Regions from separate parts of the Homo sapiens genome. Here region 1 is linked to region 2. Evidence: fine-mapped expression QTL. Tissue or cell type: whole blood. Region 2 holds a variant in brackets; the other region holds the start of a gene. All regions are shown on one strand. Distances are between the middles of the regions.

Region 1 (8,338 bases), 39 kb after region 2:
GGTTTTGCCATGTTGCTCAGGCTGATCTCCAACTCCTGAGCATTCTGCCTGCCTCAGCCTTCCAAAGTGCTGGGATTCCAGGCATGAGCCACTGCCCGGCCAGCTCAAAAATTTTAAATTACCATGCAGGCCAAACAAAACGTCTCAAAGCTGAATTTGCTCCAGTAGACTACCAATGTGTGAACTCTGAAGCTGACTATCACATCTAGTGAAATATAAGGAGGCTTCCTGACCAAGGCAAATCTTGGAGTTAGTGGGACAACACTTAAGTATGAATGAGTTTCATAGAATTGGAGAATGTTTGTGTTAGATTCTAGCCTAGACTTCCATTCAACATAAAAACCTGGTCTTTTCTATTGAAATAGAAGTAGTTGCGGCCGGGCACAGTGGCTCATGCCTGTAATCCCAGCACTTTGGGAGGCCGAGCCAGGCGGATCACCTGAGGTCAGGAGTTCGAAACCAGCCTGGTCAACATGGTGAAACCCCGTCTCTACTAAAAATACACAAGTTAGCTGGGTATGGTGGCCAGGTGCCTGTAATCCCAGCTACTTGGGAGGCTGAGGCAGGAGAATTGCTTGAACCTGGGATGCAGAGATTGCAGTGAGCCGAGATCACGCCATTGCACTCCAGCCCGGGGGACAAGAACGAGACTTCATCTCAAAAAAAAAAAAAAAAGAAGTAGTTGACAAACACATGTCAAAGATTGGTGGACAGCAAAGGAGGAGACACAGGGTGGAAAATTTGCCTTGAGACTGGCCTTGTTTGCTTTAACTTGGTAGAGTGGCATGGAAGCAACAGGCAGAAGGCATATCTGCAGTGGCAAATGGTGCTGCCTCACAGGATTTATAAAGATTTTCTTTTCTTTCTTTTTAGAGAGAGCTGAGTACAGCAGTGTGATCATAGCTCACCGCAGCCTCAAACTCCTGGGCTCAAGTGATCCTCCCGTCTCAGTCTCCTGAGTAGCTAGGTCTAAAAGTGTCTGCCACCACATTCAGCTAATTTTTTATAAAACTTTTTCTTTCTTTTTTTTTTTTTTTTTTTGTAGTGGTGGAGTTTCACTATGTTGCCCAGGCTGGTCTTCAACTCCTGGCCTTGAACTCAAGGCAGGAATCCTCCCACCTCAGCTTCCCAAAGTGCTGGGATTACAGGCAATATTTTCTTTTTTAATATTAGAGACTTCATACTAGAATTCTGTTTCTGGTTGCTTTGTCCCACGAGGTGTCACCGGGCTGTACAACATCTCTTCTGGCTGGAATAAGAAGGATAGAACACAGAATTTTCTTCTTGGAGAAATGTCTTCCTGGGTAGGTCATTTGGGGGTAACCCACTGGGAAACCGGTTTTATTCTGTACCTCCTCACCATGCCCATATGGGGGCTGAGTGCATGGGTGTGAATTGCTGGGTGGAAATCTGGTAATAAGGGTGCCACCCTGATGATGAGGACAGAGCAGGAGGCCAGCAAAGAGATGATGATAGAAATCTCTGGGCATGGGGTGGAGAAATGTAATCGCCAGTATGGAAAGGGTGGCAATAGCTGTAAAACTGGTCCCCTCCACCTTCCCCAGTGATTCCATCTCCTCCTGAGCTCTTACTCTTGCAATTGTATCCTCTCTGACACATATTTAATCTCTCATCTGTACTGGTTCCTTCCTCTCATCCTCCAGTAGACACAAATTTACCCTTTCTCCCCAAAGAGCTTCCCTAATATTTACCTCCCTCTCAACTCATTACGATGTGGCTTCTGCCCACCCTTCCCTTCCACTAAAACTGCCCTCTCTAAGGTTGCCTGTAACCCAGTTGCCAAAACCAATCTTACTTGACTTTCTGCAGCTTTTAATTCAATTCACTGTCCTCTCCTTGCCTTCCTGGGATTCCAGGACATAACTCCCCGGGTCTCCTACTTCGCTGACTGATCTTTCTATTTCTGCTGGCTCCTCTGTCTTCACCCATACTTTAAACATTATCATTTTCAGAGCTAATACTACTCCCATATGGCATCCTTATAAGAAGTTGTGAAAGGGGCCAGGCGTGGTGGCTCATGCCTTTAATTCCAGCACTTTGGGAGGCCGAGGTGGGCAGATCACGAGGTCAGGGGTTCAAGACCGGCCTGGCCAACATGGTGAAACCCCGTCTCTCCTAAAAATACAAAAATTAGCCGGGTATGGTGGTGCGTGCCTGTAATCCCAGCTACTCAGGATGCTGAGGCAGGCAAATTGCTTGAACCCAGGAGGTGGAGGTTGCAGTGAGCCGAGATTATGCCACTGCACCCCAGCCTGGGTGACAGAGTGAGACTCATCTCAAAAAAAAAAAAAAAGTAGTGAAAGGTACATCATACTCTGTGCACAGCCTGGGCCAGGGTGCATGGCTTGGCAAGCAGAGCCTGGACTGCATTTTAGTCCCTACTCACCACACTCAGCCTGGTGCCCTTGTGCCATGAACACCCTGTGCAACTGCACATTGCAGCCCAGGGCACTATCTGTGGTCTTCATCTCTTTATTGCTCTATCCTCTTTCCCTCTGTAACCCTGCTGACTTTCATTGTTCCACCTCGAACCTATGTGTCTCATCTAATCTCTAGACATCTTTTCATCTACGTCCTGAACTTCTCTTCCTGGGTGTCCTGTGGGGCATCCTAATTTTGCTATGGCCCAAACTCAGTTCAGATCTGCACACTTGCAAATATGCAAATATGCCTATTTTTCTGTATGCCCTCTCTTGGTTAATGACACCACCTTCCATCTTCTTATTCCGCTGAAAACTTCAAGATTATCAATGCCTCTTCCCTTTCCGCAATGTAAGGCTTTTGTCCTCTCCCAAGTTCACTACTGGAAGAACCTTCTAACCAGTTTCCCTATCTCCAGAGCCCCTCCCCTCCAAATTACTCTCCCCACTGCCACCAGGTTTCTTTTTTTACACAGACTTGAGCATATTTTTCCTTTGTTTCAAAACCCATTTTGTCTTCTAATTAACCATAAGATAAAGTCCAGATGCTCAGGCATTGAACATAAAACCCTTTATATCTTGGCCCAAACCTACAAAACTTTTCCAGTCCTACACCTTGCCTCTGCTCCCAAAACATGCCTTGCTCTTAGCCACATCCGATTATGATGCACCCTTTCTTGAACATGATTTTATTCACTGCGCCTTCGCTGGTGCCTTGAATGCCCTTCTCCTGTTCTTTGACTTGTAAAAATCTCATCCACTCTTCAAGATCATGCTCTCTTGTCACTTCTATTTTCAGGCACCCTTTGGCCCTAATTGACAGTGCTCTCCTCATTGCTTCTACAGTCTACAGCACTATTGGTATGCTACTACAGATAGTCTAAAAGTTGTTTTGCATCTCTTTCCTACTACATTGAGTTTCTTAACGGCAAGATTAAGCTTTGTTCGTCTCTATGTCATCAGCAGTTTGTCCAGTGCCTAGTACATGTTAGATACTGAATAAAAATTTATGACTTGAATTGGGCAGGATGCTTGAACATCATTTTGTGAAAGGACCAGTGATTTCTTTCTGTATAATTTTCAGCCTCTTCTTTTTCAGATATTGAAAGAACCTCAGAATAGGATGGTTGATGGGCCCACTTAAGATAGTTGCTATGTTATAGCCCCAATTTTTAGCCGAGTCTCTCTAGGGACATAGAAACCGTGCTTTCTCAAATGACTGATTGGTGCCTGAGTATGGATTTTTCCAGATATCAGAGTTCCTTAGAACTGCGATGATTTTCAATCTAAGAAGACCTAGATTCTAGGTTACACACACACACACTCAACCTCATCGTTTTGAATAGCAGATACAGGGTTTCAGTGTTTTTGTTTTACTCTCTGTGGGTTCTATCCCAGCATCTTACTAAGGGCTGAGATTTCAGGGCATGAAACACGGAATCAACAAAAACAAGGTTTTTACAATCTCAAAACTTTGGGAAACTGTTGAGTTATCTTGAAAGCCTAGAGGGGGAGCATCAGTTAGTTTTGTAGAGAACTCGGCGAAACAATATTGATGCATACGGCTAGCCTCTGTCATCCTCCTGAGTTAAACCCAACGGGACATGCTGGACTATACAGGAGCCACTCGTGGACTCCGTGAAGACCAGATGGGTAGTGTTCTTGAAATGAGCAGATGTCTATTTGTAGAACTCTGGTAGTAGCTTTGGAGTGGGTGGGGAAGAGCTTGGTTCCCATTCCCCCTCAAAGACAATTATTTGCTTCTGATGAGAATCCAAGCAACAAGTTGCCATTGAGAATGCAGTGATTGGTCAGCAAACGAAGCCTATAGGAAGAGCCTTCGGGTGCATTCCTTGTGACATATCGACCCGTCCTAAGCCCGACGCTTAATTATGGGACCTCTCAGCTCCTCCCTCCCGCCTCGAGCTCCCTTTTGGCTTCTCACAAGGCTTCCTGGGGACGATTCCCCGATGCTAGAGTACTGGGGGTCTGGGCCCACAGGGAACCCGTCAGCCTCCCTCCTTGGAGCGGGCCTGATCCCGGGAGGGCGCCCGCGCGGCCCGGAGGCGGGAACCTAGGGGGAGAAGGCGCCGGCGCCGCCCTGGCGCGCAGACCATCTGTGCGGTCCTGCGCGGGGGCAGGCGCGGCCTCAGCCCCCGGGCGCTGGCGGACCCAGCGCGTCAGCTAGGCCGCCCCCGTCGGCCCTCCCCCGGGCGGGGCCAGCCCCGACGGCGCTGACTCAGCAACGCGAGGGGGGAGTTTTGTCCCTCCGCGGACCCCGTTTCTCCCAGCCTCAGCCTCCCCGCCGCCGCCGCCGCCGCCGCCGCCGAGCCGGTTTCCTTTTTCCGGCGCTCCGGGTGCGAGAGACAGGTCGGGCCCCCTAGGCAGCGAGCCGCAGCGCAATCCCGGCGCTCGCCCAAGGACCCTGGAAGCTACCGTTACCCCGCCGGGCAGCGTGGGCGCCATGAGCAGCTCGGGTGAGGTGCCGCCGTCCCCCGCCGCGGTCCTCTGGAGGAGCTCCGCGGTCCCCGTGAGGCCCGGCGGCGGGGAAGGCCGGGGGCTGGGACCCTTGGCGATGGCGGGGAGGGAGCTTTCGGGGCAGGCTGGATCGGCCTGGAGGGAGACAGCTCCTTGGAGGAGGATGCCGCTTATGGGTTTCCCCGCTGCAGCGGGCACCCCAGGATGCGCTTACGAAGTTAGATTCGGGACGCGGGAGCCCCAGATCAGCCCTTTCCCCCTCTTTTTGCGTTAAAATCCTGTTTGGTCTCCCAACAGGACTGAATTCGGAGAAGGTAGCTGCTCTGATACAGAAACTGAATTCCGACCCCCAGTTCGTACTTGCCCAGAATGTCGGGACCACCCACGACCTGCTGGACATCTGTCTGAAGCGGGCCACGGTGCAGCGCGCGCAGCATGTGTTCCAGCACGCCGTGCCCCAGGAGGGCAAGCCAATCACCAACCAGAAGAGCTCAGGTGTGGGCTTCCACTTCTCCCATACGTTCCTTGACCTTCCTGACAGCGTCCCATTTTGGTGTCTTATTTAAGAGTGGTCTTAAATTCGTACTGAAAGAACTGGTCGTAAATTCGTAAAGAATGAGGCACAGGTACAGGCAGGTCTAAGAACATTACCCATGTGGTTTGTTTTGCTGTTCTGTGGCTTGTTAGTACATGCGGTTAGAGTACAAAAGTGACATGTCCATGAGTATACGTTTGAGTGTAATTGACTATATTATGTTCCAATGCTGTGTGGTTTGTAGCCCGTGTCTTGGAGATGTATGGTCTTGGTCACAAAACAGAACATGTGAAAATGTTCATATCTTTGGAGGACTCCCCAGAAATGCCCTGAAGGCCCTATACTATGAAATAGAAAAGATACAATGTAATTACATTAAAATGTCATCAGATGTTACTTTTAAATATGCTTCTTGGTTACAACTGAAGCTAATGTGCTGATGGGCTCAGTTCCCACCAGTAGATCAGTTTGTAATACAGAAAAAAGTTCTGTTCTCATGCCTTGCTGGTCAAGAAGTCTCGTTTTGCTATCTGCTTTCTAGCACCACTCTCAGAAAAAACAGGTATAGTGAAAGATTGGATATCCAGCAATCTAAATAAGGAGCACATTCTCACAACAAAATTGTACTAAACGGATTTTTTAAAGTCTTTCTATACTTAAAAACGACCCCCCAGTCTATCTATACGGACAGGAAGCACATCAGTGCTTGTTTAGAGTCGGTTAGAACTCACAAAGCACACATTTAACGTGAGTACATTTTATTGTATGTACATTATACCTGAATAAAGTTGATTTTTTAAATGTTAAGGAAAAAGTCAAGACCTTACAATAATTAATGTTTTGCTTTAGAAGAAAGTGCTTGGAGTGGTGTGGGCTCTCAGGCTACAGATGATCCAGTTAGTAATGTCACAGTGGTCCTACATAGTTTAGATTGCAGTGACCCGTTAGGGAACAGGTCAGGTCTTACACATTTTGCAGTGTCACTTTTACATACAAAAGATCCAAATAGCATGTGAGTTGTGTAGTTTATTTTCATGCAGTTTTCACATCACCAGTGCATCCAGATCCCCTCTACTAGAAATATATAGCATATAGAAGAGAGGTGACATACAGGTAAATGTAAGGTAAAGACGAACTAATAGGCACTAGTGACTTTCATAAAACACTATAGTTAACTAGAGTTTTCTTCTTGTTACAAAATTATTTTTGTTTAATGTAGAATATTTGTAAATACCAAGTAAATATTTTTCTTGTATATTTGTCAAGTTTTGTGTGTGTGTGTGTGTTTAATAGTGTTTAATATGCATTGATACCTTATACATTGTTATGTAAGCTACCTATCTTTTTCACTTACCAATATATTATAAACATATTTTCATATTAGTAAAAAGGTTATACCCAATACAAGTCAAAGTTTTTCCCTCAGAATTTTCCCTCAGAAAAGAGATAATTTCCCTGTATTTAAGACCTTAAAAGACTTTTCTAATGGCGCTCTCAGTTAATTTATTTTGAAGTAGAGTACAATTTGGAGAAGGCATTACTCTGAAAAATGGATTCTTTATTTGATACGTAAAGAGTGTTTTTGTGTTAAAGATATTAAACCTTTGCATATATATTGCTAATAATAATTACCACCTTTCTTGTTTTGTTTTTAATCTTTCTGCTCTTTCTGATTTACTCTTTCTGAATTGTCCAGATCGTGTCATGAGTTCATTGGTGGGAAATACAGTTGGAGCAGTGCAGTCTATGTGAACCCTCATAATTTCTTGATGTGCTTTCTTGTTTCAGGGCGATGCTGGATCTTTTCTTGTCTGAATGTTATGAGGCTTCCATTCATGAAAAAGTTAAATATTGAAGAATTTGAGTTTAGCCAATCTTACCTGTTTTTTTGGGACAAGGTATGGGACAGATCTGGCAAGATTCTTTTTGTATTGATATCAGCCTTGGTAGGGACTGCCTCTTCTTTTGTAGCTTTTCCAGTTATAGCCTGCCCTTTCATAATAGGTGAGACACCTTTTATTCTGACTTCCAGAGTATCAAAAGTTGACTCTTTCAAAGGCAGAACTGTTTTTGGTTGGTAGGTGGCCATTTTTTTGCAATGAAATAAGTTTACTGACTCATCTTACTGCTTGCTTGTCTATTTAAAATTTTAAATTTTATATTCAATATTCAATTCAATATATCTCCCTTTTTAACATCTTTTTAGGTTATTTGTTCTTTTCTAGGACCTAATTTCCCTCTCAAGAACTTGTCTGAAAAACAGTAAATAATTTTATTTGATTGTTTATTTGTTTATTTATTTTTTTGAGACAGTCTCACCCTGCCACCCGGGCTAGAGGGCTGTGGCACAGTCTCGGCTCACTGTAACCTCTGCCTCCTGGGTTCAAGCCATCCTCTCAACTCAGCCTCCCAAGTAGCTGGAATCACAGGCACATGCCACCATGCCCAGCTAATTTTTGTATTTTTAGTAGAGACAGGGCATTTCACCGTGTTGGTCAGACTGGTCTCGAACTCCTGACCTCAAGTGATCTGCCTGCCTTGGCCTCCCAAAGTGCTGGGATCACAGGTGTGAGCCACCACTCCTGGCCATATTCCATTTCCTAATCTTCAAAATGTATATTACTGACCTGGTTTGGTGGCTCATGCCTGTAATCCCAGCACTTTGGGAGGCTGAGGTGAGAGGATTGCTTGAGCCCAGGAATTTGAGACCAGTCTGGACCTGGCGAAACCCCATCTCTACAAAAAATACAAAAATTAGCCACGCGTGGTGCACACCTGTCCTCCCAGCTACTCAGGAGGCTGAGGTAGGAGGATTGCTTGAGCTCAGGAGGTTGAGGCTGCAGTGAGATTGCACCACTGCACTCCAGCCTAGGCAACAGAGCAT
Region 2 (8,338 bases):
CTCTTAGCTCTGATTTTTGCTTGAACAATGCTATAGTGAGGTTGTGTTGATTTAGGATGCCCTGCTCAGCCTATATTAATAATAATAGTAATAAGAGCTACTGTTTACCAAGAGCTTACTGTGCGGCAGATTCACATGCTTCATTTCATTTAATCCTCACAGTGACTCCGTAGGGAGGGTACTATTACTATTTCCATTGTATTGATGAAGATCCTGAGGCTCATGGAGGTTAAATAACTTTTCAAAGTTACATAGCTAGTAAGAGGCAGATTGCTGGTGTGCTTCAGCAGTGTGTTAAAATGTGTAGATAACTATAAATATTCTTCTGTTATATTTTTGTGTAAATGGGAACAATAGTACTTGGCAGATAAAATTTGCATCGTTAACAATACCATAAACATAGTGTAATGCAAGGATCTCCCAATCAGGTGAGAGCCTCAAGAGGATAAAACTGTTCCCTAGGCCAAGGTGGGCAGATTGCTTAAGGCCGGGAGTTAGAGACCAGCCTAGGAAACATGGCGAAATTTCATCTCTACCAAAAATATATATATTAACAAAGTTTAGCTGGGCATGGTGACTCACGCCAGTAGTCCTAGCTCCTTGGGAGGCTGGGAGCAGAGGTTCAGTCAGCCACAATTGTGCCATTGCATTCCAATCTGGGTGACAGAGTGAAACCCTGCCTCAAAAAACAAAACAAACAACAACAACAAAAAAACGGCTCCCTGCCATGCCTGGCTTGGTACAGCTTATGCACTGGGCTTGGGTTACTAGTGGTAACTAAGACTTTTCCAGCATTATTTAAGTTGTGTAGAATCTTCCAATGTTTTGACCTCTGTTAAAGTCAAACTTCTCTTTGGACTCGTCCCTTCACAATCCCCAGGCTAGATGATCAAAACGCAGCCATCTTACTTAAATATGACAATATTCAGTGAGATGCGCTACAGATTTTTGCACAAGTTCAAGCTTTCTTGGAACAACACATCCCTGTTAGTAATATCCGGCCCCACCTAGTAACCGAGGTAGACATAGAAACTTAGATCTTAAGAAGATGTCTTTCCCAATTACTATCTTCTCTAAGACTCCATAAAGAAAAACAGACTTTGAACCCAAGTTATCTTATTTATTTGACCCTGCTGTCATAAAGCGTTCAAATTCAAGTATTATAAAGGATTGTAACAGGGAAAGCATTTAGGGTTTTCAGGCAGAGGAACAGTTGGCCAAGGAAGTCAGCTTCTCAGAGCTCAAGAGGTAAGTGGTAAGACTGTCTTATATAGAAAGTAGAGAGTCATACAGATTAAAAACAAGCCAAGTGAGGGGAATACATTTTGAAAAGTTGCTGTCTCGGTGGAGTGGAGGGAAAGAGAAGACATAGATTTGTCCCCTTAATAGGGCTGGGTGAGGTCTGGCAAGAAGCCTGCACTCTCAGTTTTTATTGAGTACTTGTAGTGCAGAGCGCTTGAGAAAACTCTACTATTGACCACATTCTGCAGTAATCACTGTTACAACACTGTGATAGAAATCTTTTTGGCAAATATTTAAAATTACAAAAGAATCAATATTAGTAGTAATTGCATCTTACGAAAAGATTGATGCAGGCTTGTCTGCCAGAAAGGGTGAGCCTGGCATGAATGAAACTTACTCCTGTCAGGGCACGCCTGGGACAGGGGAGGAGTAGAGTAGGTATAGGTATATTTCAGCTCTTGTAAATTAATACTGGTGTTAAGGGGAGAGAACTCCCAGTGGCCAGGGACTGGAAAAGATTAACAGCAGCTTTTTTTTATTTTTTTATTTTTTATTTTTATTTTTTGAGACCGAGCCTCACTCTGTCGCCCAGGCTGGAGTGCAGTGGCATAATCTTGGCTCACTGCAACCTCCACCTCCCAGGTTCAAGCAATTCTCCTGCCTCAGCCTCCCGAGTAGCTGGGATTACAGGCGCTCGCCACCATGCCTGGCTAATTTTTTTTTTTTTTTTTTGCATTTTTAGTAGAGATGGGGTTTCACTATGTTGGTCAGGCTAGTCTCAAACTCCTGACCTCAGGTAATCCACCTGCCTCAGCTCCTAAAGTGCTGGGATTACAGGCATGAGCCACTGCACCCAGCCTAACAGCAGCTTCTTAAAGGAAAAGAATATTAATCTAGGCAGTAGATTGGGTAGTAGGGTGGTTGAGAGTAGGGTGGTTAAGAGCATGGTCTTGGGAGTCTGGGTTCAAATCCCGACCTTGACATTTACTGTCTGTGGGATCTCAGGCAAATTACATAGTCTCTTTAAATCTATAGAAACGACCTCAGGAGGGTTGTTAGGAGGCTTAATTGTGACTGAAATGATGTATGTAAAGTGTTTAGCACAGTCCCTGTTGCGCAGAAAGTTTTCCGTATGTGGTTCGCTATATTTATAGTAGTACTCTTGAAAGGAAGTAATGAATATATGTTTTTTTCCCAGATGGAAATGGAGAATATCTTAGGGAGAGGGAGAGTTGAAGCAAAAGCAAGAAGGGAGAAAGGACACCTTTATTATTTATTATTTTTAGTCCATTGGGTCAAGGGGAAGAGAGAGAGAGAATAGTGGGAGAAAGACAAGATTAACATGGTTTAAACTAGAGGCCATGTTTCAATTGAGGCTTTTCTACGTACACACCATTTGAATCTATGGGATTTGGAGTAGTCTCAAAAACTCTCTATTATCAGAGAACATCTTTACAAAAATGACCCAAGAAAAACTTTCAGAACAAGAATTACTTTGTTCAGTAGGGACTGTCTGAGAATGAGACAAGTTTCATTCTGCTAAAATGAAATTCTATCAGTTTCTCTAGGGAAGACTGGTTTCATCTTCCCCAGGGCACCCTGACGCTGCTCTATCTGTCATAGCCTATTTCCTGTGGTTTTATGTTGCTTTTAAAAAAAATTTCTTACTACTAAATGTACTTTGAACTTAGTCAGACAGGGTTGTTTAATTAAAAGCTAGAAGTAGTACCGTTATAGCTGGGATGATTCATCTGGGACTTCACTTTAAATGCATAATAGACAGAAGGAAGGTTCACGAACTCATTGCAGACCAAAGTACAAAACCAACTGCACTATTTTTCCCTTAGTAGATCTGAGTTTAACTCATTAAAGATGGCATGGAAGAGCAGTGTCATAATGCAAATGGGAAGATTTCTTCTCTTAGTAATTTTATTTCTGCCACGTGAGATGACAAGTAAGTTAAAGTTCTTTTTGGCCTCTTTTTAGATAAAGAAAAATTTCCGATTAAGAAAAGTGATCAATGGGCATTGGATATATCCTTAAATTCCAAATTGGAATGACTACACAGTTAGCATGGCTCACAGTACAGGAGTCAACTAACAATAAAAAATCAAATGGAGGCCAGGCGGGTGGCTCACGCCTGTAATCCCAACACTTTGGGAGGCCGAGGCAGGTGAATCATGAGGTCAGGAGATCGAGACCATCCTGGCTAACACGGTGAAACCCCATCTCTACTAAAAATACAAAAAATTAGCCTGGTGTGCTGGCAGGCGCCTGTAGTTCCAGCTACTCGGGTGGCTGAGGCAGGAGAATGGCGTGAACCCAGGAGGTGGAGCTTGCAGTGAGTGAGCCGAGATTACGTCACTGTACTCCAGCCTGGGCGACAGGGCGAGACTCCGTCTCAAAAAAAAAAAAAAAAAAATCAAATGGAAAAATATTGTTTTTAGGGTTTTATTATTACAAGACAAGGTGAAGTATTCTATTCTCTCCAGAGCCACCACCAGAATCCTCCTACATTTTAATGCATTTTATTACTAATGTTACCCCAAATAATCATCTGTTTATCTGAACATACCATTTCACATGAAAATCTTTCCAGCATTTGCTCTCCTACCACTCTTTTCTGATTTTAAAAGTAATGCATAGTCATTGTAAAATAAATCAGGCAATCTATAAAAAAAAAAAGAAAAGTACAAATCCCCCCAAATACTTTCATCCAGAGATGACAACCACTCAATATTCCATATTTTAATAAAATACTAGACAACAATACCATTATCTTTACAAGTAGCTTAAGTTTTTTGCTTTTTTGAGAAGAAGTCTCACTTTGTTGCCCAGGCTGGAGTGCAGTGGTGTGATCTTGGCTCACTGCAACCTTCATCTCCCAGGTTCAAGTGATTCTCCTGCCTCAGCCTCCCGAGTAGCTGGGATTACAGGAGCCCGCCACCATGCCTGGCTAATTTTTTTGTATTTTTAGTAGAGACAGGGTTTCACTATGTTGGCCAGGCTGGTCTCAAACTTTTGACCTCAGGTGATCCGTCCGCCTCAGCCTCCCAAAGTGTGGGATTACAGGCATGAGCCACCATGCCCGGCCAGCTTAAGTGTTTTAAAAGGAAGGTTAATGTGTTTACAGAACATATTAACAAATGTTATCTGGGGTACAGGTTTATGACAGATAAAGTTCTTTTTTAGCTTTTGTTACTTGCTTCTGAATCAGAAAAATAAAAACCGAAATTCAGGTGTATTACTATGCAATGAATAGGTTTCTAAAAGTC[A/G]GAGCTGAAAAACAAAACAAAACAAAAAAAACCTGGTATGTATCCTGATCACCCAACCCACAAAGACTGGTCTACCACACAAACCTCAACTACTTAAACATCTTTTTATTTTTCTTCACTGCCAAAACAATATTAAAACATTATAGATGCAAGACCCAATTTGTCCATAATCCTATCATTTAAGCAGAAAATGTTTTCAAATCAGTTCTTACTCATCTGCATGTGCAATTTTGATACATTTGTAGTAATTATTAGAGCTTTAATTTATATTCTGCCTTTTTGCCTAAAGTTTATACCTTAAATATTTTTCCATTTCATTCCCTTGCTTTCCCACTTTCAATCCCTTCAAGTAAACAAATTAAATATGGTATGTGTATATGTATATACATATATGCATGCGTGTGTGTGTATTCAATATATATGGGTTTTTTCCTGTCTTTTTTCCATGAAAAAATACTTCCATGTATACACACATACACACATATGTGTATGATCATTCTGTATGTATTGATTTCTAACCTGATGCTTCTCAAATCACCGGGGGTCGGGGGGTGGGGTGCCTTTAAACAACACAATGCCCAGATTGCACTCATGTCAACTAATCAGATGTCTGGGGATGAGAATCAGGCATCAGTACTTTTTTTTGGGGGCAAGGTCTTGCTCTATCACCCAGACTGGAGTTCAATGGTGCGATCTTGGCTCACTGCAACCTCCACCTCCTGGGCTCAAGCGAGTCTCCCACCTTATCCTCCCAAGTAGCTAAAAGTATGGGTGCACACCACCATGCCTGGCTAATGTTTTTTTTTTTATTTTTTTATTTTTTGTAGAGACGGAGTCTCACTATGTTACCCAGGCTGATCTTGAACTCCTGAGCTCAAGCGATCCTCCCGCCTCTACCTCCCAAAGCCCTGGGATTATAGGCACAGCACCCAGCTACATCAGTACTTTTTAAAAGATCCCCTGGTGATTCCAATGTGCACAAAAATTTGATGACCACATTTTAATCTTTTTCTTTTTCAGTTAACAATACATTATGAATATTTTTCATTATAAAATCATATAGATCAATATGACTATTTTTAATCGTTGAGAGTTTATTTTGTTCTACTGATGTAACATAACTTATTTAACCAATCCCCTGTTCATGAGCATTAAGGTTGTTTACTCTGTATATCTAAATAGTTTCTCCCTATACTCCCAGGTTCTGTTTTAACTGTGAATGGTAAAACTGAGAACTATATCCTGGATACTACACCTGGCTCCCAAGCATCTCTGATATGTGCTGTTCAAAACCACACCAGAGAGGAAGAACTGCTCTGGTACCGAGAGGAGGGGAGAGTGGATTTGAAATCTGGAAACAAAATCAATTCCAGCTCTGTCTGTGTCTCTTCCATCAGTGAAAATGACAACGGAATCAGCTTTACCTGCAGGCTGGGGAGGGATCAGTCCGTGTCCGTTTCGGTGGTGCTGAATGTTACTTGTGAGTGAGGGGAAAAGAAACAGCTAGTGGGTCTGTAATGTCTGTAACACATGAAGTGGTAGTTGAAATCTAGGTCTTGGTATTGCCAAATTGCCCAATTTATGCTCCTACCACAAAGTATGAGAGTACCTATTTCCCCTCACCCTCATGAGCACTGAGTATCGCCAAACTCTGAGAATTTGCCAGCCTCCTTTGAAATTTTCTTTTCCTTTTCTTTTTTTTCTTTTCTCTTTTCTTTTCTTTTTTCTTTTTCTTTTTTCTTTCTTTCTTTTTTTTTTTTTTGAGACAGAGTCTCGCTCTGTTGCCCAGGCTGGAGTGCAGTTCAGTGGCGCAATCTCGGCTCACTGCAACCTCCACCTCCCGGGTTCAAGCGATTCTCCTGCCTCAGCCTCCTGGGTAGCTGGGACTGCAGGTGCCCACTACCATGCCCAGCTAATTTTTAATTTTTGTATTTTTAGTAGAGACGGGGGGTTCACCATGTTGGCCAGGCTGGTCTCAAGCTCCTAACCTCGAGTGAACCGCCTACCTCAGCCTCTCAAACTGCTGGGATTACAGGTGTGAGCCACTGCACCCAGCCTGTTTTCATTTTTTAAATTAAGAATGAGGGTGTTCACCTTTGTGTAAACATAATGGTCTTTTTTTTGTTTGTTTCCATGAAATGCCTGCTTGTATCCTTAACTCATTTTTTTCCGTTGGGTTTTATGCTTTTTTCTCATTAATCTGTACAAGGGCTTTGTAGATTAAGGAAATTAGTCCTTTGTCATTTTGAATTGTAAGTATTTCTCCTATTTGTTTTTGAAAATTTTTATTGTTCTTTTTTGCCATATTGAAATTTTAAATGTTTATATATTTAAAGCTTCAAGTCTTTTCCTTTGTAGTTCCTAGCTTTTGTGTTCTGCTTAGACAGATTTTCATGGCCTGGCACAGTGGCTCATGTGTGTAATCCCAACACTTTGGGAGGCAGAGGCAAATGGATCACTTAAGATCAGGAGTTCGAGACCAGCCTGACCAACAATGGTGAAACCTGGCCTCTACTAAAAATACAAAAATTGGCCAGGTGCGGTGGTAGGCACCTGTAATCTCAGCTACTCAGGAGGCTGAGGCAGGAGAATTGCTTGAACTCAAGAAGCAGAGGTTGCAATGAGCTGAGATGCCACCACTGCACTCCAGCCTGGGCAACAGTGTGAGACCCATCTCAAAAAAAAAAAAAAAAGATTTTCATTAGGGAATCTTTAAACATCACCTTAAAATCAAAAAAGGTGAAGCTTTTCAATGATTGGGTTCCAGGTATTGGTAACCCATTGGTAGAACTGTATAGGCTTAGGGGACTGTCAAGTGATACAATGTAGATGATCACATGGGTTGTTGGGTGAAAAGCTGGTTCTGCATGAGAATGGTGTGGATGGTATGGCAATGGGTGAGGTATAATGATGCAGTATGATTTGGTAGAAAGACCCTATCTCTACAAACATAACATAGTGAGACCCTATTTCTACCAAAAAAAAAAATAAGGTGTGTTTTTAATTAGCTGGGCATGGTGGCACACATCTGTAGCCCCAGCTGCTCGGGAGGCTGAGGCTACAGGATCTTCTGAGCCCAGAAGTTTGAGGCTTCAGCGAGCTGTGATTGCGCCACTGCATTTCAACCTGGGCAACAGAGTGAGACCCTGTCTCAAAAAAAATAAAATAAAATAAAATAAAATAAAAAGCCAGCTAAGGAAACTAAGGCCCGGACTAGGGGCTCAAATCATAGGTGCAGCTGAGAATAAAACACTAATTCCCAAGCTTCTAACCTAGTGCTTAAGTGCTTATTCCACGAAACTTTTTTTTTTTTTGAGACAGGGTCTCACTCTGTCACCTACACTGGAGTGCAGTGGCACAATCTCAGCTCACTATAACCTCTGCCTCCCAGGCTCAAGTGATCTGCCTGCCTCAGCCTTCCAAGTAGCTGGGACTACAGGCGTGCACCACCAGGCCGAGCTGATTTTTGTATTTTTTGTAGAGACGGGGTTTTGCTATGTTGCCCAGGCTGATGGAACCCTCTTAAGGGAGACATGGCAGAAATGCCAACAATGTGATTTGATGACTTAAAGAAATTGTTTTCAGTTTTCTAGCCTCAATCCACTGTTTAAATTCTGTTTATAACAATCTCCTAAATATCATTGTTGCTAAGTGTGTGTGTGTGTGTGTGTGTGTGTGTGTGTGTATAGTTAATTGCTCAGTAATCCATAATGACAGTACTGACACAAAGTCATCAACCAATAAATCAAAATGAGCTCATAAAATGTGACAAGGATATTATGTACCCTTCAAAGGCAGGACCATTATTGTTATAAATAGCA

The links.
Region 1: it holds the start of BLMH, and the variant in region 2 is fine-mapped to the expression of BLMH in whole blood (TOPMed, PIP above 0.99).

Annotation. Positions count from the first base shown.
Region 1 is chr17:30,288,387-30,296,724 of GRCh38, reverse strand. BLMH (bleomycin hydrolase) reads left to right here and starts at 4,781. Exons shown (of 12, transcript NM_000386.4): 1 at 4,781-4,918; 2 at 5,217-5,414; 3 at 7,243-7,352. The coding sequence starts at 4,906. It overlaps LOC124903971 (a long non-coding RNA gene), which reads right to left and starts at 2,035. Exons shown (of 2, transcript XR_007065700.1): 1 at 1,185-2,035. RefSeq lists silencers at 4,371-4,780, 4,981-5,050 and an enhancer at 5,501-5,560.
Region 2 is chr17:30,326,910-30,335,247 of GRCh38, reverse strand. It overlaps TMIGD1 (transmembrane and immunoglobulin domain containing 1), which reads left to right and starts at 1,191. Exons shown (of 7, transcript NM_206832.3): 1 at 1,191-1,248; 2 at 3,090-3,196; 3 at 5,719-5,997. The coding sequence starts at 3,115. The variant A/G (reference allele first, on the strand shown) is at 4,518.